2 separate regions of the Homo sapiens genome follow, and region 1 is linked to region 2. Evidence: fine-mapped expression QTL. Tissue or cell type: whole blood. Region 2 holds a variant in brackets; the other region holds the start of a gene. All regions are shown on one strand. Distances are from middle to middle.

What was found. PIP is the estimated chance that this variant, and not a neighbour inherited with it, causes the effect.
Region 1: it holds the start of PLIN3, and the variant in region 2 is fine-mapped to the expression of PLIN3 in whole blood (INTERVAL, PIP 0.99).

The regions. Positions count from the first base shown.
Region 1 is chr19:4,863,267-4,871,367 of GRCh38, forward strand. PLIN3 (perilipin 3) reads right to left here and starts at 4,401. Exons shown (of 8, transcript NM_005817.5): 1 at 4,343-4,401. RefSeq lists enhancers at 3,369-3,718, 3,661-4,161, silencers at 4,379-4,558, 6,982-7,146, 7,023-7,102 and a cis regulatory region at 6,815-7,301.
Region 2 is chr19:4,956,995-4,965,077 of GRCh38, forward strand. It overlaps UHRF1 (ubiquitin like with PHD and ring finger domains 1), which reads left to right. Exons shown (of 17, transcript NM_001048201.3): 17 at 3,663-5,160. The coding sequence ends at 3,809. Among named protein-coding and RNA genes, the nearest start is that of KDM4B, 8.1 kb to the right of the region's middle. The variant CTG/C (reference allele first, on the strand shown) is at 3,578.

The DNA of each region.
Region 1 (8,101 bases), 94 kb before region 2:
GCGGGTGGATCACCTGAGGTCAGGAGTTCGAGACCAGCCTGACCAACATGGAGAAACCCCATCTCTACTAAAAATATAAAATTAGCCAGGCATGGTGGCGAATGCCTGTAATCCCAGCTATTCAGGAGGCTGAGGCAGGAGAGTTACTTGAACCCGGGAAGCGGAAGTTGCAGTGAGCCGAGATCGCGCCGCTGCACTCCAGCCTGGGCAACAGGAGCGAAACTCTGTCTCAAAAAAAAAAAAAAAAGAGATTTAAATGTAACTCACATGGGCCAGATGTGGTGGGTCACACCTCTAATCCCAGCACTTTGGGAGGCCGAGGCAGGAGGATCACCTGAGGTCAGGAGGTGGAGACCAGCCTGGCCAACATGGCAAAACCCCGTCTCTACTAAAAATACAAAAATTAGCCAGGCGTGGTGGTGCACGCCTCCATGTTTAGTTATCCCAGCTACTCAGGAGGCTGAGGCAGGAGAATCGCTTGAACCCAGGAGGTGGAGGTTGCAGTGACCTGGTATTGCACCACTGCACTCCAGCCTGGGTGACAGAGCGAGACTCCATCTCAAAAAAAAAAAAAAGAAAACAAAACAAAACAAACAAAAGACTAAATGTAACTGACATGACATGAACAAAGATCTAGTCAAGGGATAAAATGTGTTAAATAGGGCAAACTTTCTTCTCTTTCTTGAGACGGATTTCCGCTCTGTCGCCCAGGCTGCAGTGTAGTGGTGCGATCTTGGCTCACTGCAACCTCTGTCTCCTACGCTCAAGCAATTCTCCCACCTTGACCCTGCAAGTAGCTGGGACTACAGGCACGCACCACCACACCTGGCTAGTGTGTGTGTGTGTGTGTGTGTGTGTGTGTGTGTGTGTGTGTGTGTGTGTGTGGTTTTGTTTTTTTTTTTTGGACAGGGAGTCTTGCTCTGTCATCCAGGCTGGGGTGCAGTGGCGTGATTTCGGCTCACTGTAACCTCCGCCTTCTGGGTTCAAGCGATTCTCCTGCCTCAGCCTCCTGAGTAGCTGGGATTACAGGTGTGCACCACGTCTGGCTAATTTTTTGTATTTTTAGTAGAGATGGGGTTTCACTATGTTGGTCAGGCTGGTCTTGAACACCTGACCTCGTGATCCACCCGCCTCAGCCTCCCAAAGTGCTGGGATTACAGGATGAGTCACTGCACTCAGCCGTGGTTTGTTTTTTTTTTTGTTGTTGTTGTTGTTTTGTTTGTTTGTTTTTTAGTAGATGGGGTTTTGCCATGTTGCCCAGGTTGGTCTTGAACTCCTGAGCTCAAGGGATCTGCCCACCTTGGCCTCCCAAACTGCTAGGATTACAGCTGTGAGCCACCGCACCCAGCCAAAATTTAGGCTTTTTTTAAAAAGTGAGATAACATGCCTGCCTGCACCGCAGAGCTATGAAGTCCAGGTCAGGGGTGTGGGGAGGACGGGGTTCCCCAGGTGAGTCTATGTAAGCGGGATGAAGCCACAACTCCCTTTTCCTGGACTAGTGAAATGAAGCTGGGACACCATCATCAGAAGAGATTCTCAGGGGGAAGCCAGGAGTCCCAGCTCCACCTACGCTATGCTCCCTGGAGCAAGGCGCCTTCCCCTCCTCTGGCCTCGGTCATCTTACCTGTAATATGAGGCTAAAGGGTCGGGCATGGTGGCTCACACCTGTAATCCCAGCACGCTGGGAGGCTGAGGTGGGTGGATCATGAGGTCAGGAGTTCAAGAGCAGCCTGGCCAACATACTGAAACACTGTCTCTACTAAAAATACAAAAATTAGGTGCGGGTGTGGTGGCGGGCGCCTGTAGTCCCAGCTACTTGGGAGACTGAGGCAGGGGAATTGCTTCAACCTGGGAGGCGGAGGTTGCAGTAAGCCAAGACTGCGCCACTACACTCCAGCCTGGGTGACAGAGGAAGACTCCATCTCAAAGAAAAAAGAAAAAGCCAGGCATGGTAGCTCACGCCTGTAATCCCAGCACTTTGGGAGGCTGAGGCGGGCAGATCACCTAAGGTCGGGAGTTTGAGACCAGCCTGACCAACATGGTGAAACCCCATCTCTACTAAAAATACAAAAATTAGCCGTGTATTTTGGCTGACACCTGTAGTCCCAGCTACACAGGAGGCTGAGGCAGGAGAATTGCTTGAACCTGGGAGGTGGAGGTTGCAGTGAGTCGAGATCGCACCACTGCACTCCAGCCCGGGTGACAGAGGGAGACTCCGTTTCAAAAAAAAAAAAACATGGGGCTAAAGGTCATGCCTGTCTTATGGGCTGCTTTCCTGGGGAATTCTGGTGTGAGCCTAAGAACCTGTGGCCTTGAGTCTGAGCATCTTTTCCCAGAGGAATGAGGCCCCACCTCCTGGTGGCCTTGCTTCGATGTCCCCTAAGCAGAACCCAGCAAAATGATGATGTTTTGCAAGCACTAGATCTGGAGTCCAGATTGGGTTCTTTCCATTTTTTTTTTTTTGTTTTTTTTTTTGAGACGGAGTCTCGCCCTGTCGCCCACGCTGGAGTGCAGTGGCGCGATCTCAGCTCACTGCAAGCTCTGCCTCCCCGGTTCACGCCATTCTCCTGCCTCAGCCTCCCGAGTAGCTGGGACCACAGGCGCCCGCCACCACGCCTGGCTAATTGTTTGTATTTTTAGTAGAGATGGGATTTCACCATGTTAGCCAGGATCGTCTCGATCTCCTGACCTCATGATCCGCCCGCCTCGGCCTCCGAAAATGCTGGGATTACAGGCGTGAGCCACCATGCCCGGCCTTTTTTTTTTTTTGAGACAGAGTCTTGCTCTGTCGCCCAGGCTGGAATGCAGTGGCGTGATCTCAGTTCAGTGTAACCTCCATCTCCCAGGTTCAAGCGATTCTCCTGCCTCAGCCTCCAGAGTATCTGGGAATACAGGTGCCCGCCACCACGTCCGGCTAATTTTTATATTTTTAGTAGAGGTGGGGTTTCACCATGTTGGCCAGGCTGTTCTCCAACTCCTGACCTCAAATGATCCGCCCACCTCAGCCTCCCAAAGTGCTGGGATTATAGGCGTGAGTCATCCTGCCCAGCCCAGAATGGGTTCTAATCCCAGCTTGGCAACTCACTAGGAATAGGAGTTTGGGAAGGCAGCATCCCCTAGGAGTCTTGCTTGCCACATCTGTGAAATGTGTATAAGTGTTTCACAAGAGCCTGGAGTCCCTGTGGACTGGAGGAGACGCTGCTCCGGGGAAGCTCAGATCCGTGCCCGGCACATAGTAAGTGCTCCATAAACTATCTCACCGCACTCTGGCTTCCACGGACAAAGGGGTAAAGCCAGCCAGGAACCAGCTTCCTGCTAGGTACAAAAGTCCCCCAACTGGGAAGTCAGGTGAGAAGACATACCTACCTCCCAGTGATCATTGCCTAAATCTGTGCTTCTCCTCACCTCCTTTGGAGCCTGAGCTCACCTGGGCAGGGGGCCAGGTAGGCAGGCATCAAACTCCTGGCCTCGACCGATTCTCAAGTCCCACTTAGGACTCAGGCAGCTTCCTCCCGTCCCCTCTGTCCACCATGACTTCCTGGAACTGGTTTAAGCAAGGGTGGCCATGGCAGATGTCAACACCCTATGAAACCCCTGGGGGTCAGTGACCTGCCTTGCCGCTGGCTCCAGAAGGGGAGCTCCAGGCCAGACCCAGCCATCCAGCAACTTCAGAGCATGCTAAGACTGGACTTCCAAAATTCCAAGGGCCCCAGGTCCCACTGCCAGGCCTAGCCGGGACAAGAACCCCAAAGCAGTTAACGGATAGGCCTTCCTACTTTTAAGCCACCTCGTCGCCACGCCCACCCGAGGGAAGTGGGCAGGCTTTGCCCAAGACCTCCCCAGAATCAGTTGGGGGCGCCAGGAGCTGGGGCAACCCCCACCCCCACCCGTGGCAAAACCATCTGTAGGGGAGGGGGCTTTGCGGTGGCGGGGGGTGTCTCTGAAAACCCCAGAAGGGAGGGCGGAGATTCTGCCCGCAGGAGGAAACTTGCCTGCAAATGGCGTTTCCAAAAGCAAACTGTTCAAAATTTAGAGAAAACCTGGTGGGCGGGGGGCGGTATTTAGCCCACCCCCTTCAATATCACCCCTTCTACGGGGCTCTTTCGCCCCTCAAAAGTCCCAGGAAGTGAGAAGAGGGTTTCAAAGTCTGAGCTTCGTTGCAGAAGTTGGATTTTTCTGGGGGGAGGGGTGACCAGCCTGGGCTGAAGACCCCTCCCCAGGCCGCAGAGTCCAGCAAATCCCACCCCGAGAAAGGCCCTCCCCGACCCCTCCGGCCCCTGGGGTGCCCCAGGACTCCATGGACACCGCCCCCCAGCTCAACTGAGACGCCCCCGCCACTCACCGCGGTCAACCGGACGTCCCAGGAACAGCTGCCGCGACTTCAAAACCAGCTTGGAAACCGTCCGGGCCGAGGCGGGGGTGGCTTTTACTGCGTGGTAGGTTGGGGGCGCACTGGAGTGACGGGCGAGGGGACCAATCAGGTTGAGGGATTGCCCGCGCCAGGCCCGCCCCTCTCCTCCCTGCCCCGCCTCCACTAGGCCCCGCCCCTCGCCAAGTCATGAAGTCCGGGAAGGACTCCACGCCCTGCCCCTGAAGGGGAGGGAGCACTCTTGGACCACGCCTGTCCCAGCCACGGGACCCCCGCTCCGCAGCTGGGGACCCTGTGAAGTTGGCCCTGGGAGGTGAGTGCGATCGGGGGCGCCGCACAGGTGCTGGGATTCCCCAGGTCGCCCATTTCCCCTATGGCCAAACTGAGGCTGCGAGAACCCTGGGAGAGTTGCAGGGTGACCCTCGCCAGCGCGTCAGGGGCCACGCCCTCCACCATGGGCTCCGACTCAGCTATATGTACACACACACACACACACACACACACACACTTTTTTTTTTTTTTTGAGACACAGTCTCGCTCTGTCGCTAAGGCTGGAGTGCAGTGACGCGACCTTGGCTCACTGCAGCCTCCACCTCCTGGATTCAAGCGATTCTCCTGCCTCAGCCTCCTGAGTAGCTGGGATTACAGACACGTGCCACCACGCCCGGCTAATTTTTTGTATTTTTAGCAGAGACGGGGTTTCACCATGTTGGTCTTGAACTCCTGACCTCAAGTGATCTGCCCGCTTGGGCCTCCCAAATTGCTGGGATCACAGGTATGAGCCACCGCACCCGGCCCAACCCAGCTATATGAGTGACTTGAACCACCACGGGAACTTGTCCAGCCTCCGGCCTGATCTGCCCAACATCAGACCACTTCATCCTCCCAGCACTGTATTGTCTTTTTAATCATCCCTATTTTGCAGAGAAGGAAACTGAGGCCTGGAGAGGGTCAGCCAGGGGCAATGGAGGGGTCAGGCTCCAGGCTCTGTGACTGCTGGATCAACCTTTTCCTGAAGCTGCCCCCACTTGGATTTTACCCCGCCCCTCTCCACCTCCCAAATTATTTATCCTCTTGGTCTATAAACCAAGGTCTCAATCTCAGATGGTCCAGGGAGGAGGTGAATATTTCTGCTGAGGAGGTGGCAGTGATGCCCTGCTTAGAGGGGCAGGGGAGAGCAGTGCCCTATGGGAGACCCACCTGGAGAGTCACAGATCCACAGGAAGTTCAAGCTGTAGACATGTCCTGCCTGTTAGGGAACAATTGGACCAAATGAAACCCAACTGGGGCTTTGTCCAGCCCAGGGGCCACCAGTTTGCCACCTCTGCCAAATTATTTGAATAGAATGAAGCTTCTGGTAGCTTTAGAAAGAACATGGGAAAAATTGGGTGTCTGTGACTGCATTTTTTTGGGGGGGTGAGTGGGGACAGGGTCTATGCTAGCACTGTCCAATAGAACTTTCTGCAATTCTAGAATTGTGTGCCATCCAACATTGTAGCCAAAAGCACCACGTGGCTAATGCACAGTGAGAAGCTGAATGTTTAAATTTTTTTTTTTTTTTTGAGGCAGAGTCTCGCTCTGTCTCCCAGGCTGGAGTGCAATGGCGCGATCTCGACTCACTACAACCTCCACCTCCCGGGTTCAAGCGGTTCTCCTGCCTCAGCCTCCCAAGTAGCTGGGATTACAGGCGCGCGCCACCACACCCAGCTAATTTTTGTATTTTTAGTAGAGACGAGGACTAACCATATTGGCCAGGCTGGTCTCGAACTCCTGGCCTCAAGTGATCCACCTGCCTCGGCCTCCTAAAGTGCTGGGATTACAGGTGTGAGCTACCGCGCTTGGCCTGAATGTTTAAATTTAAGTAACTTCAGGCAGCTAGTGAGATTCTCAAGTGAATCTGAGACCCCATTCCATGACATTTGTAACAGGCTTTTTCCTTCTCATTCACTCATTCAACCATATTTATTGAGTCCTTGCGCTGGGGACAGCGGTGAGCTAAACAGATAAGAATTCCAGCCCTGGTGACACACACTACCCAGTGGGAGAGACGAACAAGGAACAACATAAGTGAGAGAACTTTACAATGTGTCACGTGGTAGGACAGCAAAGGACGAGATGAATGTGGGGGATGCGGGGATTTTGTTCTTGTTTTTTGTCAAAGAGTCTCACTCTGTCACCCAGGCTGGAGTGCAGTGGCACGATCTCGGCTCACTGCAACCTCCGCCTCCCAGGTTCAAGAAATTCTTGTTCCTCGACCTCCCAAGTGGCTGGGATTACAGGCCTGTGCCACCATGCCTGGCCAATTTTTGTATTTTTTTTTTTTTTAGTAGAGACGGGGCTTCACCATGTTGGCCAGGCTGGTCTCGAACTCCTGACCTCATGTGATCCACCAGCCCTGGCCTCTCAAGGTGCTGGGTTATAGGCATGAGCCACCACACCCGGTGGGGCCGCAGTTTTTAGTAGGGAGGTCAGAGGAGGCCTTTCTGAGTGACATCCAAGAAGAGAAGAGAGAGAGGCCAGGAGGGAACCATGTCCAGTTAGGGGGAACAGCATTCCAGGCAGCAGGCACAGTCCGTGCAAAGGCCCTGAGGCAGGACCACACCCTGCCTGTTAGAACAGTGAGGAGGCCCCAGTGGCTGGAGTACAGTGAGTGAGAGAGAGGGAGGAGGGGAGGGCTGGGATGGCTCAGAGAGGGGAAGTGACTCATCCAAGATTCAAGGTCAGTGGGAGATTTGCCTGTTAACCCTTAACTTCTTAGTGGCCTTGAGTAACAAAATAGCTCTGGTCTAGGGGATGAGCCCTGGTGATTTTGCCCCACACCGTTTTTTGTTGTTTTTTTTTTTTGAGACAGAGTCATCTCCCAGGCTTTTGGTTCTTCTTGATGGCAACATCTGCCCAGGAGTCCCCGCCTGGCCTCCCACAGCCCTAGGGTGAGAGGTAAGAAATAGCTACTGTTGGCTGGGCGCAGTGGCTCACGCCTATAATCCCAGCACTTTGGGAGGCCGAGGTGGGCGGATCACCTGAGGTCGGGAGTTTGAGACCAGCCTGACCAACATGGAGAAACCCCGTCCCTACTAAAAATACAAAATTAGCCAGGTGCGGTGGCGCATGCCTGTAATCCCAGCTAGTCAGGAGGCTGAGGCAGGAGAATCACTTGAACCTGGGAGGCAGATGTTGCAGTGAGCCAGATTGTGCCATTGCACTCCAGCCTGGGCAACAAGAGTGAAACTCTGTTTCAAAAAAAAAAAAAAAGAAAAGAAAAGAAAAAAAGAAATAGCTACTGTTGGCCGGTGGCTCACACCGGTAATCCCAGCACTTTGGGAAGCCAAGGCGGACAGATCACTTGAGCTCAGGAGTTCAAGACCAGCCTGGCCAATATGGCAAAATCCTGTCTCTACCAAAAATACAAAATTAACCGGGTATGGTGACGCATGCCTGTAATCCCAGCTTCTCCACAGGCTGAGGTGGAAGGATCGCTTGAGACTGGAGGGGTGGAGGTTGCAGTGAGCCAAGATTGCACCACTGCACTGCAGCCTGGGTAGCAGAGCAAGACCCTGTCTCAAAACCAAAAATGAGATAGCTGCTGTTTTCTGGGCTATTTCATTACATTATTCAGCAGCCTGATTCCCATTTTCTTTTATTATTTATTTATTTATTTATTTTCGAGATGGAGTTCTGCTCTGTCGCCCAGGCTAGAGTGTAGCCGTACGATCTCGGCTCACTGCAACCTCT
Region 2 (8,083 bases):
ACATTCTCCCCCAAGTCCTGTATGGTCAAGGGGCCAGGGTGGGAGAGGATGGGCCACAGTCTTGGCCTAAGGTCTGGAGAGGAGGTGCACATCCCCTAGGGGTCAGGAAAGAAGGCTTCTTGGAGGAGGTGGTGTTACCAGGCAGCATCCCTTGTACCTGGGACAGCAGGTGAAGAAGCCTGGGTGGGAAGTCAGCAGCTGGGGCCTGCAGTGGCTCTGGGCACTGGGGTGGTGGCCTGCCATGGGCTTTAAACTCAGGACAAGTGGTCAGTCGTAGGAGGGACACAAGATCCCAGCTGATGGTTTTTTTTTTTTTTTTTTTTTTTTTTTCTGAGACAGAGTCTCGCTCTGTTGCCCATGCTGGAGTGCAGTGGCGCAGTCTCCACTCACTGCAAGCTCTGCCTCCCGGGTTCACGCCATTCTCCCACCTCAGCCTCCCGAGTAGCTGGGACTACAGGCGCCCGCCACCGTGCCCGGCTAATTTTTTGTATTTTTAGTAGAGATGGGGTTTCACCGTGTTAGCCAGGATGGTTTCGATCTCCTGACCTTGTCATCCACCCGCCTTGGCCTCCCAAAGTGCTGGGATTACAGGTGTAAGCCACCGCGCCCACCCCGCAGCTGATGGTTTTCAAACCGATTGGTTTGGGGCCAGGACAGGGTCTCTTCCCCCCTGTGCTGTGGGCCTTGGGGCTGGATCATTGTCTGGGGTGGGGCCGTCCTGGGCACTGCAGGGTGCTGAGCAGCATCCCCGGCCCCCACCCACTCCATGCCAGGAGCTCCCTGCCTAGTCGAGACAATCACAGACATCCCCAGACACCTTCCAGTGTCCCCTGGGGGCAGAACTGCCCAGGTGGGCAGTGTGGGTCTGGGTGATGGTTTCTCTGCTGCAACCTCTGGCCAGAGCCGGCAGTCCCGGTGGACAGGTGTGGAAGGGACTGACCCTGCCACCCCACGGATCTCCCCAGGCTTCTGAGTTGCTGGCGGTTTTCCTTCCAACTGCAGTCCCGCAGTCCTCTCAGCCATGGGCCACACCCCCGGGTCTCAGACCCCGTGTTTGTTTTCATGCCAGGAGGCAGCTCAGGGAAGGTCAGGAGATGGGGTGTTCCCAGTCATGCCCATGGCATCTCTGCCTCCTCGGGCCCCACCTGCCTCGCCCTGTGGCCTGAGTCCCTTCAGCTGTGTGGGCCTCCCTGAGTGCCCTGAGTGAGGTGGCAGAAGGGGTGAGAGGCCATGGTGTCTTTGGGGCTGGTGGTCCGGGTCTGGCCATCTGTCACCTCTCAGGCGTGCAGGCACTAATCCCTCCAAGCCTCAGTTGGCCACAGTGAGAAGGGGCCTGGTAACACTGTCCTGGATGCCAGGTTGTTGTGAAGGTCCCGGCTTAGCCTCTGGCAGGAAGGAGGTGCTCAGGAGGTGGGCACAGGCAGAGGGCTGGCTGTGGGGGGCTATTGGAAGAGGGAGGCCTGGGAGCCCCGTGGCGGTAGGAAGGACTGTGGGGACATTGGAAACCATCTGTCCTGTGCATCGGTGTGAAGGCGCGGAAGCGCTGAGGATGTGAAGGAAGGGGCTAACCAGCATCACGGTGTCCCCACAATCTGTCCTTGTTGCTCTGTTCCAACTTGGGAAGCTCAGCATCGGAGGGGTTCTGGGAAACAGGCTGTGACCTTCCACCTTGATCTTTTTAAATTATAAACTTGAGGCCAGCCGTGGTGGCTAATGCCTGTAATCCCAGCACTTGGGGAGGCTGAGGTGGGAGGATCACTTGAGGTCAGGAGTTTGAGACCAGCCCGGGCAACATGGTGAAACCCCATCTCTACTAAAAATTAAAACAAAATTAGCTGGGTGAGGTGACAGGTGCTACTCAGGAGACTGAGGTGGTAGAATCGCTTGAACCTGGGAGGTACAGGTTGCGGTGAGCTGAGATCGCGCCATTGTACTCCAGCCTGGGCGTCAGAGCAAGATTCTGTCTCAAAAAAAAAAAAAAAAAATTGAAAAAAACATTCAGAGACAGCATCTCACTCTGTCGCCCAGGCTGGAGTGCAGTGGTGCCATCATAGCTCATCGCAGCCTTGAACTCCTCGCGGGGCTAAAGAGATCCTCCTGCCTTAGCCTCCTGAGTAGCTGGGGCTACAGGCATACACCACCATGGCCAACATGATGAAACCCTGTCTCTACTAAAAATACAAAAATTAGCCAGGTGTGCTGGTGGGCGCCTGTAATCCCAGCTACTCAGGAGGCTGAGACACGAGAATCCCTTGAACCCGGGAGGTGGAGGTTGCAGTGAGCCAAGATCACGCCACTGCACTCCAGCCTGGGCGACAGAGCGAGACTCTATCTTAAAAAAAAACAACAAAAACAAAAGCCACAGGCTGCCTGGGGCAGGTGACTGTGCTGTGGTCACCAGGCCTCTCCCCCATGTGGTCACCGCCCTCGCCCAGCTGTGTGACGACATGCTGCAGACATGTGCCCCCTGCGTAGGCATCTGTGCACCTGTGTACGGCGTGTCACTCCTCCCTGGCGTGCAGCCAGCCCGGTGGCATCTTCCCTGTTTGTCTGCTTGGGAAGTGGAGACTCCAGGCCTCTCAGCTCTGTCTTCTCCTGGCTTTCTTCCCCAGGCACGACTTGGTTGATTGAGCTTGAAGTTAGGAATCTGAATCCACCAGACTTGGTTCCTTCCTCCTTTTCCCCTTTCTTCTCATTGACGTGTATGTTTATTTTTTATTTTTTTCGAGACAAGGTCTTGCTTTGTCGCTCAGGCTGGAGTGCAATGGCGTGATCATGGCTCACTGCAGCCTCAGCCTGCCTCCCTGGGTTCAGGTGATCCTCCCACTTCAGCCTCCGGAGTAGCCACGCCCGGCTAATTTTTTTGTTTTTGTTTTTTCTTTGAGACGCAGAGTCTTGCCCTGTCACCCAGGCTGGAGTGCAATGGCGTGATCTCAGCTCACTGCAACCTCCGCCTCCCGGGTTCAAGCCATTCTCTTGCCTTAGCCTCCCAGGTAGCTGGGATTACAGGCATGTGCCTGGCTAATTTTTGTATTTTTAGTAGAGACAGGGTTTCACCATGTTGGCCAGGCTGGTCTTGAACTCCTGACCTCAAGTGATCTGCCCCCCTCGGCCTCCCAGAGTGCTGGGATTACAGGCATGAGCCACGATGCTTGGCCTGATGTGTGTGTTTATTAAGCATCTACTGTATACACTGTGCTTGGTGTTGAGAGAGAACACAGCCTCAAAGCTCAGGGAGCATCTGCCCTGTTGTAGATAAGATAAGCACATTAATAATATATAACACGGCTCCACAGGTGGAAGGAGAGGTGCCGTCTTGAAGGCAGATGGGGTGAGGGGATGGGACTGCCTCTAGGGAGGTGTCAGGGAAGGCCCCATAAGGGAGGTGACTTGAGCTGAGCTGTGAGTGATGAGAGCCGGGGGACCGAGCTGTTAAGCTGCATGACCTGCCAGGGACAAAAGCCTGGAGGCCGGGTGAGCTTGGAATCTTTGAGGGCCCCTAGGGGGGCCAGGCTGGTGATGGGCAGCAGGTGGAAAGTGAGACTGAAGGTCAGAGGGGCCTCTGGACCTGGTGAGA[CTG/C]TCCCCACAGTCCTGGGAGAGGTGGCCAGGAGCAAACCTGATGGTGTGGATGGCACTTCTCACGCGCCTGCTGTGTCTTACAGGACTGCCTGGACAGATCCTTTCGGGCACAGGTGTTCAGCTGCCCTGCCTGCCGCTACGACCTGGGCCGCAGCTATGCCATGCAGGTGAACCAGCCTCTGCAGACCGTCCTCAACCAGCTCTTCCCCGGCTACGGCAATGGCCGGTGATCTCCAAGCACTTCTCGACAGGCGTTTTGCTGAAAACGTGTCGGAGGGCTCGTTCATCGGCACTGATTTTGTTCTTAGTGGGCTTAACTTAAACAGGTAGTGTTTCCTCCGTTCCCTAAAAAGGTTTGTCTTCCTTTTTTTTTTTATTTTTATTTTTCAAATCTATACATTTTCAGGAATTTATGTATTCTGGCTAAAAGTTGGACTTCTCAGTATTGTGTTTAGTTCTTTGAAAACATAAAAGCCTGCAATTTCTCGACAAAACAACACAAGATTTTTTAAAGATGGAATCAGAAACTACGTGGTGTGGAGGCTGTTGATGTTTCTGGTGTCAAGTTCTCAGAAGTTGCTGCCACCAACTCTTTAAGAAGGCGACAGGATCAGTCCTTCTCTCGGGTTCTGGCCCCCAAGGTCAGAGCAAGCATCTTCCTGACAGCATTTTGTCATCTAAAGTCCAGTGACATGGTTCCCCGTGGTGGCCCGTGGCAGCCCGTGGCATGGCGTGGCTCAGCTGTCTGTTGAAGTTGTTGCAAGGAAAAGAGGAAACATCTCGGGCCTAGTTCAAACCTTTGCCTCAAAGCCATCCCCCACCAGACTGCTTAGCGTCTGAGATCCGCGTGAAAAGTCCTCTGCCCACGAGAGCAGGGAGTTGGGGCCACGCAGAAATGGCCTCAAGGGGACTCTGCTCCACGTGGGGCCAGGCGTGTGACTGACGCTGTCCGACGAAGGCGGCCACGGACGGACGCCAGCACACGAAGTCACGTGCAAGTGCCTTTGATTCGTTCCTTCTTTCTAAAGACGACAGTCTTTGTTGTTAGCACTGAATTATTGAAAATGTCAACCAGATTCTAGAAACTGCGGTCATCCAGTTCTTCCTGACACCGGATGGGTGCTTGGGAACCGTTTGAGCCTTATAGATCATTTACATTCAATTTTTTTAACTCAGCAAGTGAGAACTTACAAGAGGGTTTTTTTAAAATTTTTTTTTCTCTTAATGAACACATTTTCTAAATGAATTTTTTTTGTAGTTACTGTATATGTACCAAGAAAGATATAACGTTAGGGTTTGGTTGTTTTTGTTTTTGTATTTTTTTTCTTTTGAAAGGGTTTGTTAATTTTTCTAATTTTACCAAAGTTTGCAGCCTATACCTCAATAAAACAGGGATATTTTAAATCACATACCTGCAGACAAACTGGAGCAATGTTATTTTTAAAGGGTTTTTTTCACCTCCTTATTCTTAGATTATTAATGTATTAGGGAAGAATGAGACAATTTTGTGTAGGCTTTTTCTAAAGTCCAGTACTTTGTCCAGATTTTAGATTCTCAGAATAAATGTTTTTCACAGATAGACTTGATTGTGTCTTCCTATTTGCAAACTGCCTTTGGAGCTTTCTGTCTACTTTTGTGCACTATTTTACAAAAATCCCAGGAGAAACATGAGGCAGGTGGCTTCAGCCCCACTTTACAGATGAGAAAACTGAGACCCAGGAGATGACGGTGACGGGCTGAGGTCCTAACCGCAGCCTGGGAGGTGCTGGGCTGTTCACTTTGCAGCGTCAAGTTGCAGGGGTCAGCAAACGACAGCCAATGGGACCCAAGTCAGGACACTGCCTGTCTGTAAATAAAGTTTTATTGACACCACCACACCCATTTCTTTATGTATATAGTGGCGTTTACGCTACCATCAGCAGAACTGAGTAGGTACAGCAGAAACCATCTGGACCACAAAGCTGAAAAATACTCACTGCCTGGCCAGCAAAGCTTGCTGGTCTCTTCTCTTGGGAGGATGACTTGAGTGTAGGAGTCTGAGACCAGCCTGTAGACCCCAACTCTACAAATAAATAAAAATATTAGCCAGGTGTGGTGGTGTGTTTCTGTAGTCCCAGCTACTCAGGAGGTTGAGGCAGGAGGCTGATTGCTTGAGCCCCAGAGCTAGAGGCTGCAGTGAACTTTGATTGCACCACGGTACTCCAGCCTGGGCAACAGAATGAGATGCTGTCTTTAAAAACGTTTTAAAAAAAAAAAATCGGGACGGTAAAGGGGCTGCGTCTTGCAGATTAATTAATTCACATCAACCTATTACTGGTGCCTTTTATTGATGGTTAAGTAACCATATGGGCAGATTTGTTTTGTTTTTGAGACAGTCTTGCCCTGTTGTCCAGGCTGGAGTGCAATGGTGTGATCACAGCTCATTGCAGCCTCCAACTCCTGGGCTCAAGTGATCCTCCCATCTCAGCCTCCCGAGTAGCTGGTACCACAGGCATGCAGCACCATAACTGGCAAATTTAATTTTTTTTTTTTTTTTTTTGGAGAGACGGGATCTCATTCTGTTGCCCAGGCTGGTCTCCAACTCCTGTGATTAGGCGATCCTCCCATCTCAGCCTCCCAAAGTGCTGGGATTACAGACGTGAGCCACCACGTGCAGCCTGGAGTTTCTTTTTGAGGTGGTAAAAATGTTCTAAAATTGATGGTTGCACATGTCTGTGGATATACTAAAATCCACAGAATTGTGCACTTTATTTTTTATTTTTATTTTTTCCTTTTTTTTTTTTTGAGACGGAGTCTTGCTCTGTTGCCCAGGCTGGAGTGCAGTGGCGTGATCTCGGCTCACTGCAAGCTCCGCCTCCCGGGTTCACGCCATTCTTCTGCCTCAGCCTCCCAAGTAGCTGGGACTACAGGTGCCCGCCACCACACCCGGCTAATTTTTTTGTATTTTTAGTAAAGACAGGGTTTCACCGTGTTAGCCGGGATGGTCTCGATCTCCTGACCTCGTGATCCGCCCCCCTCGGCCTCCCAAAGTGCTGGGATTACAGGCGTGAGCCACCGCGCCCGGCCAGAATTGTGCACTTTAAGTGGGTGAATTGTATGGTATGTGGATTATACCAGAAATATGTCAAGTGTGAACGTGAAGATAAGATTCCCAGTTCTTGAAGGAAACTCCATAAATGTCCCCAGTGGGCCCTTCCTAGAAAACACTAAAGTGGGTTCATTGTTGAGATTGCTGCCTTCTTTTTGATTTTTCTCTCCCTTTAAAGAACAATGTCATGTTTAAAAAAATGAGCAAAACCCAGAAAAGTATTTGTGGAACTGTTTTGCCACCGACTCTAATCTTGGGCATATTTCTTTCCTGGTTCACTTAAAAAAATTTCTTTGGCCGGGTGCGATGGCTCACACCTGTAATCGCAGCACTTTAGGAGGCTGAGGTGGGCGGATCACCTGAGGTCAGGAGTTTGAGACCAGCCTGTCCAACATGGTGAAACCCCATCTCTACTAAAAATACAAAAATAAGCTGGGCATGATGGTATGAACCTGCAATCCCAGCTACTTGGGAGGCTGAGACAGGAGAATCGCTTGAACCCAGGAGGTGGAGTTTGCAGTGAGCCGAGATCACACCACTGCACTCCAGCCTGGGCAACAGAGCGAGACTCTGTCTCAAAAAAAAAAAAAAAAAAAAAAAAGTCTTTGATTCAAGATCTCACTTTGTCACCCAGGCTGGAGTACAGTGGTGGTGTCATCATAGCTCACTGCAGCCTCAAACTCCCATGCGCAAGCAATCCTCCTGCCTCAGCCTCCTGAGTAGCTGGGACTACTACAGGTGCAAACCACCATGCCTGGCTACTTTTTTAAAGAGAGAGATATATATTTTAGTAGAGAGAAGTCTCACTTTGTTGCCCAGGCTGGTCTGGAACTCCTGGTCTCAAGCCATCTTCCTGTCTGGGTCTCCCAAAGTGCTGGGATTACAGATGTGAACTACCATGCCCACCCTAAAAATCTTTAACAGCTCTATGGAGATAACAGTTCAGGTAATATAAAGGTCACCCTTTTAAAGCATACAGTTCAGTGGTTTTATTTTACTGTGTTGTTTTTGAGACAGTCTCGCTCTGTGGCCCAGGCTGGAGTGCAGTGGCAAGATCTCTGCTTACTGCAACCTCCCCCTCCCGAGTTCAAGTGATTCTTCTGCCTCGGCCTCCCAAGTAGCTGGGATTACAGGCATGCACCACCATGCCCGCCTAATTTTCATATTTTTAGTAGAGACAGGGTTTCACCATGTTGGTCAGGCTGGTCTCGAACTCCCGACCTCAGGTGATCCACTCGCCTCGGCCTCCCAAAGTGTTGGGATTACTGGTGTGAGCCACCATGCCTGGCCAGCTTAGTGGTTTTAGTATAGTCAATACAGTTATGCAGCCATCACCACCATCTAATTACAGAACTTTAACATCCACACAAAAAGAAACCTCACACCCTTCCGCAGTCTTGCCCTGTGTCCCTCCCC